Linked DNA regions of Homo sapiens: region 1 is reported to be linked to region 2. Evidence: microRNA targets listed by miRTarBase, many of them from high-throughput screens and not tested one by one. Region 2 holds a microRNA gene; the other region holds the end of a gene's coding sequence.
The links. Region 2 holds the annotated microRNA hsa-miR-542-5p (UCGGGGAUCAUCAUGUCACGAGA, at 2,030-2,052, shown strand). A microRNA usually pairs through its seed, bases 2 to 8, with sites in the 3' UTR of a target mRNA and lowers its output. Matches are read on the target gene's strand: a 7mer-m8 pairs with bases 2 to 8, a 7mer-A1 pairs with bases 2 to 7 and ends in A, and an 8mer does both.

Region 1 (3,355 bases), not on the chromosome of region 2:
AGCATCACCTGGAAACTTATTAGAAATTAGAGATTTTAACCCAACGGTAGACCTACTGAATCTAACACCCTTGGAATGTCGGGCAGAAATCTGTGTTTTAACACGCCCTCCAGGTGATCCTGGTGCAGATTCTGGTGAGAATCACTGGACTGGGAAAATGCAGTTAGAATTACTAAGACGGTAATTAAATCTTTTGGTAATAAGTTTAAATGAAACTAGTCAGCACAGCTGTATGCCGTTTTTTGCCTAAACAGAGACTAGGTGAAGAGTTGAGTATCACCATGATAAGTTAACTAGGCAAGTATTATGCCACAATTATTATCTTCATGCATCATGAAATAATCTTGGAGCCAGAAAACTGGGCTGAGAAGCAGCAAGATGGTGCAAGAGTGACATCTATCCACTTCCAAGTCCAAGGGAAACACAGATGTAGCCACTGCTGGAGAAGCAGTGTCTTCACTAGACATTCAGATCTCCATTATAGCAAAAAGGTGTAGTCATCCTTAGGAAGAAGGTTGTAGATATGTGGGCTTTTCTATTGCTAAATTATGACTTCTAAATGGTAGGATGAAGAGGCTGGAAAACTGGTGACGAGTAGAAAAATGAGTCAAGTGAGGAATTTTCAGAGCATATTGTGATGAAAATAAAAAAGATGACCTGGATAGCCTGAGCTTTTTATGCAAGCTGTAGCAAAGAGGGTATGAAGCTTAATCATATTAAATGGGGAGGTAAAAAATCCATTTTCACTGTAATTTATTTATTGAGACTTATCTTTTTGGTAGGTGTAGACATGAAGTAGGGGTCTTTGGCAGTGAGCTTTCTAGAAACACTTGGAAGTTTGTAGGCCCGCCCTTCACTCTTACCGATGGCCATGTTGGGGCTCAGAAGGGGTGGTCTGTTGAGCACACAAATCTCTGTGGATGGGTCCCCTTTAGAGTCCAGAATCTACTCCTCAACACCTCCCCTGCTCCCACCCTACTGCAAGAAACTACTGTTTCTCAACTGCTCTATCATAAAAGCCTCCTAACTGGTTTCCCTGCTTCCCTGGTTTTCCTCTACCACAGTCCATTCTCCACTCTGAAGCCAGACTGATAAATTGAATTATTTGATTTATTTGCTCAAAACTCACCAGTGACTATTACATTCACAGTAAAATCCAAAGTTTTCACCAGACCTATAAAACTTTTCACAATCTCTCTGACTTCCTCCCCATTCCCCGCTCCTTTTTGTCCATTTCAGCTACATCACCTCCTTGTTATTCTTAAAACATAGCAGGAATACTGCTACCTTGGGCCTTTTACTTTCAGACAGCCCCTGGATCTTCCTTCTCCCAGTGAATTGCATGTTCAGTTCTCGTAGTTACTTCTGACTTCTGCTCAAATGTCACCTTTTCAGAGAGGCCTTCCCTCATCACCCTATGTAGAATATCTTATTCTGATTCATTTTTCTTCACAGCACTTACCACTTAACATAACTTGTATCTCCACAAAAGAAAGTAAAGTCAATAAATAAAGGATCTTTGTTTTTTTCACTGCTATTTTTTTCAATGCCTAAAACAACATTGAATTATTATGGTAAAAGTGTTTTAAATTATTTAATCATGGAATCATTAAAACACAAATAATTGCATATCCTGCCATGGTGGGATACTCTAGGTGAGGCAGAAAGAGAAAAAGGTGGGGCATTGGCAACCATGGAAAATGTAAACTACAAACATAAGATAGATATACTGAAGGAGGTGATATTCTTGGAAGGTGCTGTGCCCCATGGAGGGCTGGATTTGTGGTGACTGGGATATACAGTGGAGATGGCAGCAGCTGCATCTCTGTGTGCTAAAGAGACAGTAGAGACAGCCCATCACCATCTTATAATGGTGGCAAAATCAACGAGCAGGAGGTTCCAATGATGATAACTATTCATCCGGACTTGGTTAATATGTGAATTCACCCTACTCTGGCCCTCATATTATTCCTGTTCCACTTTCAAACTTGAACAATTTGGGTTTGAGAAATTCAGGCAGTCTTTATGACTAAATATCTGGGCCTATCTATGTAAAATGTTTCCCTTTCTGTTTGAGCATGTTATGATTGTTTTCCCTACATATGGGTCTATTTATGTGTCTCTAGGTATTTGCATCTGTGTTTGCACATGGCTGTGTGTACTCATATGTGGACTCTATATGCCTGTATATGTGAATTTTTTACTATGTGAGCTTGTGTACATACACACACCTGTCCAAGGTGACATGCTCAAAATAATCAGTTTCATATACCATGCTCAAGTTTCATATACCATGCTCAAAATGCTCATGTTTTAGAGATAAAAACATTATTTTTATCTCTATATTAATATATGCATGTGGTTTGTGTGTTAATGTACATATAGTAGGTGAGACAAAAATCTCACACAGCTAGTTTTTTCTTTTTTTTTTTGCAAAAGAAGTAAAGCCAAACCTCAGATCGCAGCAAGTGAGTGTAGCCATTTTATTGACAGATGTTTCAGCCACGACCAATGATCTATTATTCAGTACAAGACACATTGGTTGATAACTCTTATTCCAGGACTTCTCCTGGCTGGAAGCATCAGGAAAGGTGCAAAAGGCAAATGAGATGGTCAGGTGGGTCAGCAGGCAGGTAGCAAGCAAACAAGTAGGCATGGTGGTTAGAATCTCTGGGATCTCTTGAGCTTGCGGATAGCAGCATTGGTGTCCCCTTCAGTAGCAATGAGTGCCTGTAGATTGGCATGGTGGTTCCCAAATCCCATGGCCTGGAGAGAATCCATCTGTTTGCTAAAACAAATCTCAGGAGCTTGCAGAGGGTGGGAAGGGTCCCCATCCGGGGATTGTAGCCTCTGCAGGACTGTTCCAGGCTTGTGGCAGCACTCAGGTCCCTTGGGCTCAGCTGTATCTGAAACATTCCAGGAACAGGGCACTGTGTCAGGATAGCTGCAGCTGGGGGCAGGAAGCCAACCCAGGCCCCATAGGTAGGGTGCAACCCAAGGCAGAAGAACAGGAGCCTCTGTGGCCAGCAGCTGGAGGGCCTGCTCAATCTGCAATATTGCTTGGAATGCTTTAGGGTTGCCTAAGCACTAAGCAGATCAGAAATCTGTGTCTGCTGCAGGAATGTGGGCAGCTGCTGCCTCCACTGTTCACTCAGCTGGGGCATACTTGTGAACAACATAATCTGAGCTGCCAGGTAGGGGTTGTTCATAAGCAACTGCATCATGCCTCCTGTGATCTGGGAGCTGCTCTGCTCATCTGACAGCTGGAGATCACCCTTTAATGTCTGTCTGGAGCTACTTAGAGAAACAGTGGCATCCTTGTATTCTTCTTGAAGCTGCTGGGTAAGCTCTATGC
Region 2 (3,418 bases):
CCACACAGGAAAACAGTGGGCTGTACTCCAGTGCTGGGACATTGAATGACTGTATGCTGCTTTTGATTTCCGTTAATATGGGCAACTGTCCAATTAAAAAAAAAACTCCTAAGGACTCTGCAGTGCAAATTGTTTTGCTGATTGTTTTAAAACACCATACCTATCAACTCATCAAGGCAAATGGGGCAGCGGGGGACTGGGTTCGTTCCCTGAATCCTGGACTGCTATAGAGCTCAGGGCAACATTTGCAGAAAACCTGAGCCTATGAGATGGGAGTTATAGGCAGCTTTCCTGAGGCTGTGTAAGATGAAAATAAAACTAGGTTCAAAAAATATGTTTGGGGAAGATCAATGAGTTTATCGATAGAAGTTAAAAGACTTGAGTCTGGCTATATGCAAGTTGGCATATGTTTTTAGAGATCTTTTTTCCCATTGGCCTGCAGTATGACTTAATCTCATAACCCTAGAATTTTATATATGCATTTGTATTTAGAGTTATTACATGACTCTTAAGCAAAAAAGAGTATATATACATCAAGTGTAGCAAACGTGTATCTCCCTGCCCCCCTACATCCCACTCAGGCCCACCCATTAGTTACTCCTCAGTGAATAAACAAGGATCGGCTAGCTCTTTCATAATATTTCACCTATCTGCCACCTTTTCCCTCCTCCCCAGCTCCACAGCTGATCTCTTTGGCAAGTTCAGCCAGGCTTAAAACCCCTGTGGGGATAGTAAATTGAGCCAAGAGGGAGGAGCCCCGAAAGACTTCCACTTCCTGTGGTTGCTTGGGCCTTTGAGCACTCCCCCTTCCACTACTGAGCTCTATAATCTGAGCAGTTGGTGGGTGTTTGGAAACATGGCCTTGGCTCCACTGCTGGAGTCAGGGAGCTCAGAACACTGCAGCAACCTGCCAGTGAGAGTCTGGGTTGCTTTGAAGCCTGAGTCTCCCAAGGCAGCTCCCTCACCTGTTCCCCCATGTCCACCCCCACCTGCCATCCAGACAAGACTATTACCCTAAGACCAGACCTTCTAAAGGCGTGGCCACAGAATCATCAGTATCCCAACATCTTGCCTTTGTATCGTGTGTTTACATACTTTTCCAAATACTTTGTTTTTTCTTTTTTTTCTTTTTTTAATTTGTGACAACCTTGAAAGACAAACAGAGTTAAGGCAGTCCAAAAAATAATTACAGACAAGAAAACTGGGGCCTCTGGAGGTTAAGGATTTGTCTGAGGCTACTCTCTGGGGGCTCTTCCTCCAGGCCTCATACTGTGTTCCTTATGTCATTACCTGTTCATCAGAACCGACTATGCAGTAGTGACCAGAGCAGGAAATGGAGGTGAATGTGTTTGGTTACAAAAATTCCCGGTGAAACTGGCTAGTCTTATGATGAGCTTTGGCCTATACATTGGACACTTCCTGGGTGAGGCCCAAGATTGGCCCCAGGATTACTAAATAGTGACTATAAGTTACCCAGCCGTGTACAAGTCAATCTGCACAAACCAAAAAAGCATGATTTAAATTCATTTTAAACCTCTGTCCCATGTTTGTTATTTTCTGTAGATTCAATCAAATTATCTTAAGGAAACAAATGAAGTGTCAAGCTATAGGGGTTGACTTAATCTAGTCACTCACTCAATGGAACCTTTTTCAGCCATTGCAAATAATAATGATAGAGAATATACAGAAACCTGGAAAATGCTTATGATATCAACTTAAAAAAAATCAGGGCCACAAAATCACATGGACACCATGATTGAAAAATAGGAGCAGAACCTGGAGGAAACCTGCAAAACAGACATACTTGTTACTTAAGGGTGGTGGGATTAGAGCTGAAGTTTCTTCTTTCTCTACTTTTTCATGGTTTTGTGTGTGTGTGTGTGTGTGTGTGTGTGTGTGTGTGTGTGTGTGTGTGAGATGCCACGTTTTCTTGTTATGTTGTCAAAATATAATTCTCTAAAAAGTCTTTAGGGGTCATGGGTGATACAGAAATTTGGGATCGGTCAAGGATGCACAGATCTCAGACATCTCGGGGATCATCATGTCACGAGATACCAGTGTGCACTTGTGACAGATTGATAACTGAAAGGTCTGGGAGCCACTCATCTTCATAGCAAAACATGTGGTAAGTATTACAAGACGAATCAATGAAAAGATCAGGAGGAAAGTGGGCCCTAAGCAAAGAAGAAAGGGGTTGCTATGGGATGGGGTGGGAGGATGAGTTGTGTTTTCATAGGAGTGTAATGGGAATGCCTTTATTTGTGTCTTTATTGCTTTAAATGTTTGTTGAATGAATTGAAACTTACATAAGGTATATGATTTTATACTTGTGCTAGAATGCTAAAATAAAGAATTTATGCTCAAGCAAACAACTGGAAAACACTTTGCTATAAGCATTACAGACACAGGGTCATTTTTAGTATGTTGAGTCCACACAAGTGGTCAAGAAAAACCATAAAAACTACATGAACAGAAAGCCCCAGTTAAAAAAAATGCATAAAGATGCTCATTTCAATATTTTAAGGATGGAAGTTAGGAACATCCTGAATGACCAACAACAAAGGATTAGACAAATAAAATACAGCGTAGCTAGCTAGTACAATAGAATAGGATGCTTTCATGTAAAATAATGTTTCTGAAAGTAATTTTCATGTCATGAGAATGTGCTCCTGATAAAACATTTAGCGATTGAAAAAAGGTGCAAAATATTTTCCCATCTCTGCAATATAGGTATATAGGGAGCATTCTGTATGAATAGTTTTGTATCAACATACAGATAAAAGGCTAGGAGGAAACATATAAAAACTTTATTGTGATTATCTCTGAGTTGTGGTATAAAGGTGACCAAAGAAAGATGCTAAACTATTTTTGCGATGTGTTCCTAATATGTAATATAAATGTATTGGGGACATTTTGCATTCATAGTTTTGTATCAATAATATGGGGAAAAGAGGCTATCAGGAAGTATACCAAAAGTCTAGAGGTGGTTATCGCTGACTTGTGTCACTATAGGCAATCAAAAACGATACTAAACTGTTTTTGCGATGTGTTCCTAATATGCACTATAAATATATTGGGAACATTTTGCATGTATAGTTTTGTATCAATATACAGATGAAAAGATGGAGGGAATAAGCAAAAAATCTAACAGCGGCTATCTGTGGTTTACTTCTGTGATAAATGTAAGATGCAGAATTATTTTTGCAATATGTTCCTGAATATGTAATATAAGTGTATTGGGATCATTTTGCATCCATAGTTTTGTATCAACATATGGAGAAAAGTCTAGGAAGAAATATACCAAAACTTGTAACAGTATTATAGTATAAAATTATAGGTAATGTTTGTTTTTCTCTTTATACTTTTATGTATTTTCCAAGTAATATTTGCATAAACAATAAAATGCATTGCTTTTATA

Region 1: the mRNA of UBQLNL is a reported target of hsa-miR-542-5p. Seed matches in the 3' UTR shown: 7mer-m8 at 2,836-2,842.

The regions. Positions count from the first base shown.
Region 1 is chr11:5,511,934-5,515,288 of GRCh38, forward strand. It overlaps UBQLNL (ubiquilin like), which reads right to left. Exons shown (of 1, transcript NM_145053.5): 1 at 2,460-3,355. The coding sequence ends at 3,081. Among named protein-coding and RNA genes, the nearest start is that of UBQLNL, 3.1 kb to the right of the region's middle.
Region 2 is chrX:134,540,034-134,543,451 of GRCh38, reverse strand. It overlaps MIR542 (microRNA 542), which reads left to right and starts at 2,015; the gene lies at 2,015-2,111. It overlaps MIR450A1 (microRNA 450a-1), which reads left to right and starts at 3,021; the gene lies at 3,021-3,111. It overlaps MIR450A2 (microRNA 450a-2), which reads left to right and starts at 2,845; the gene lies at 2,845-2,944. MIR450B (microRNA 450b) reads left to right here and starts at 3,190; the gene lies at 3,190-3,267. It also overlaps MIR503HG.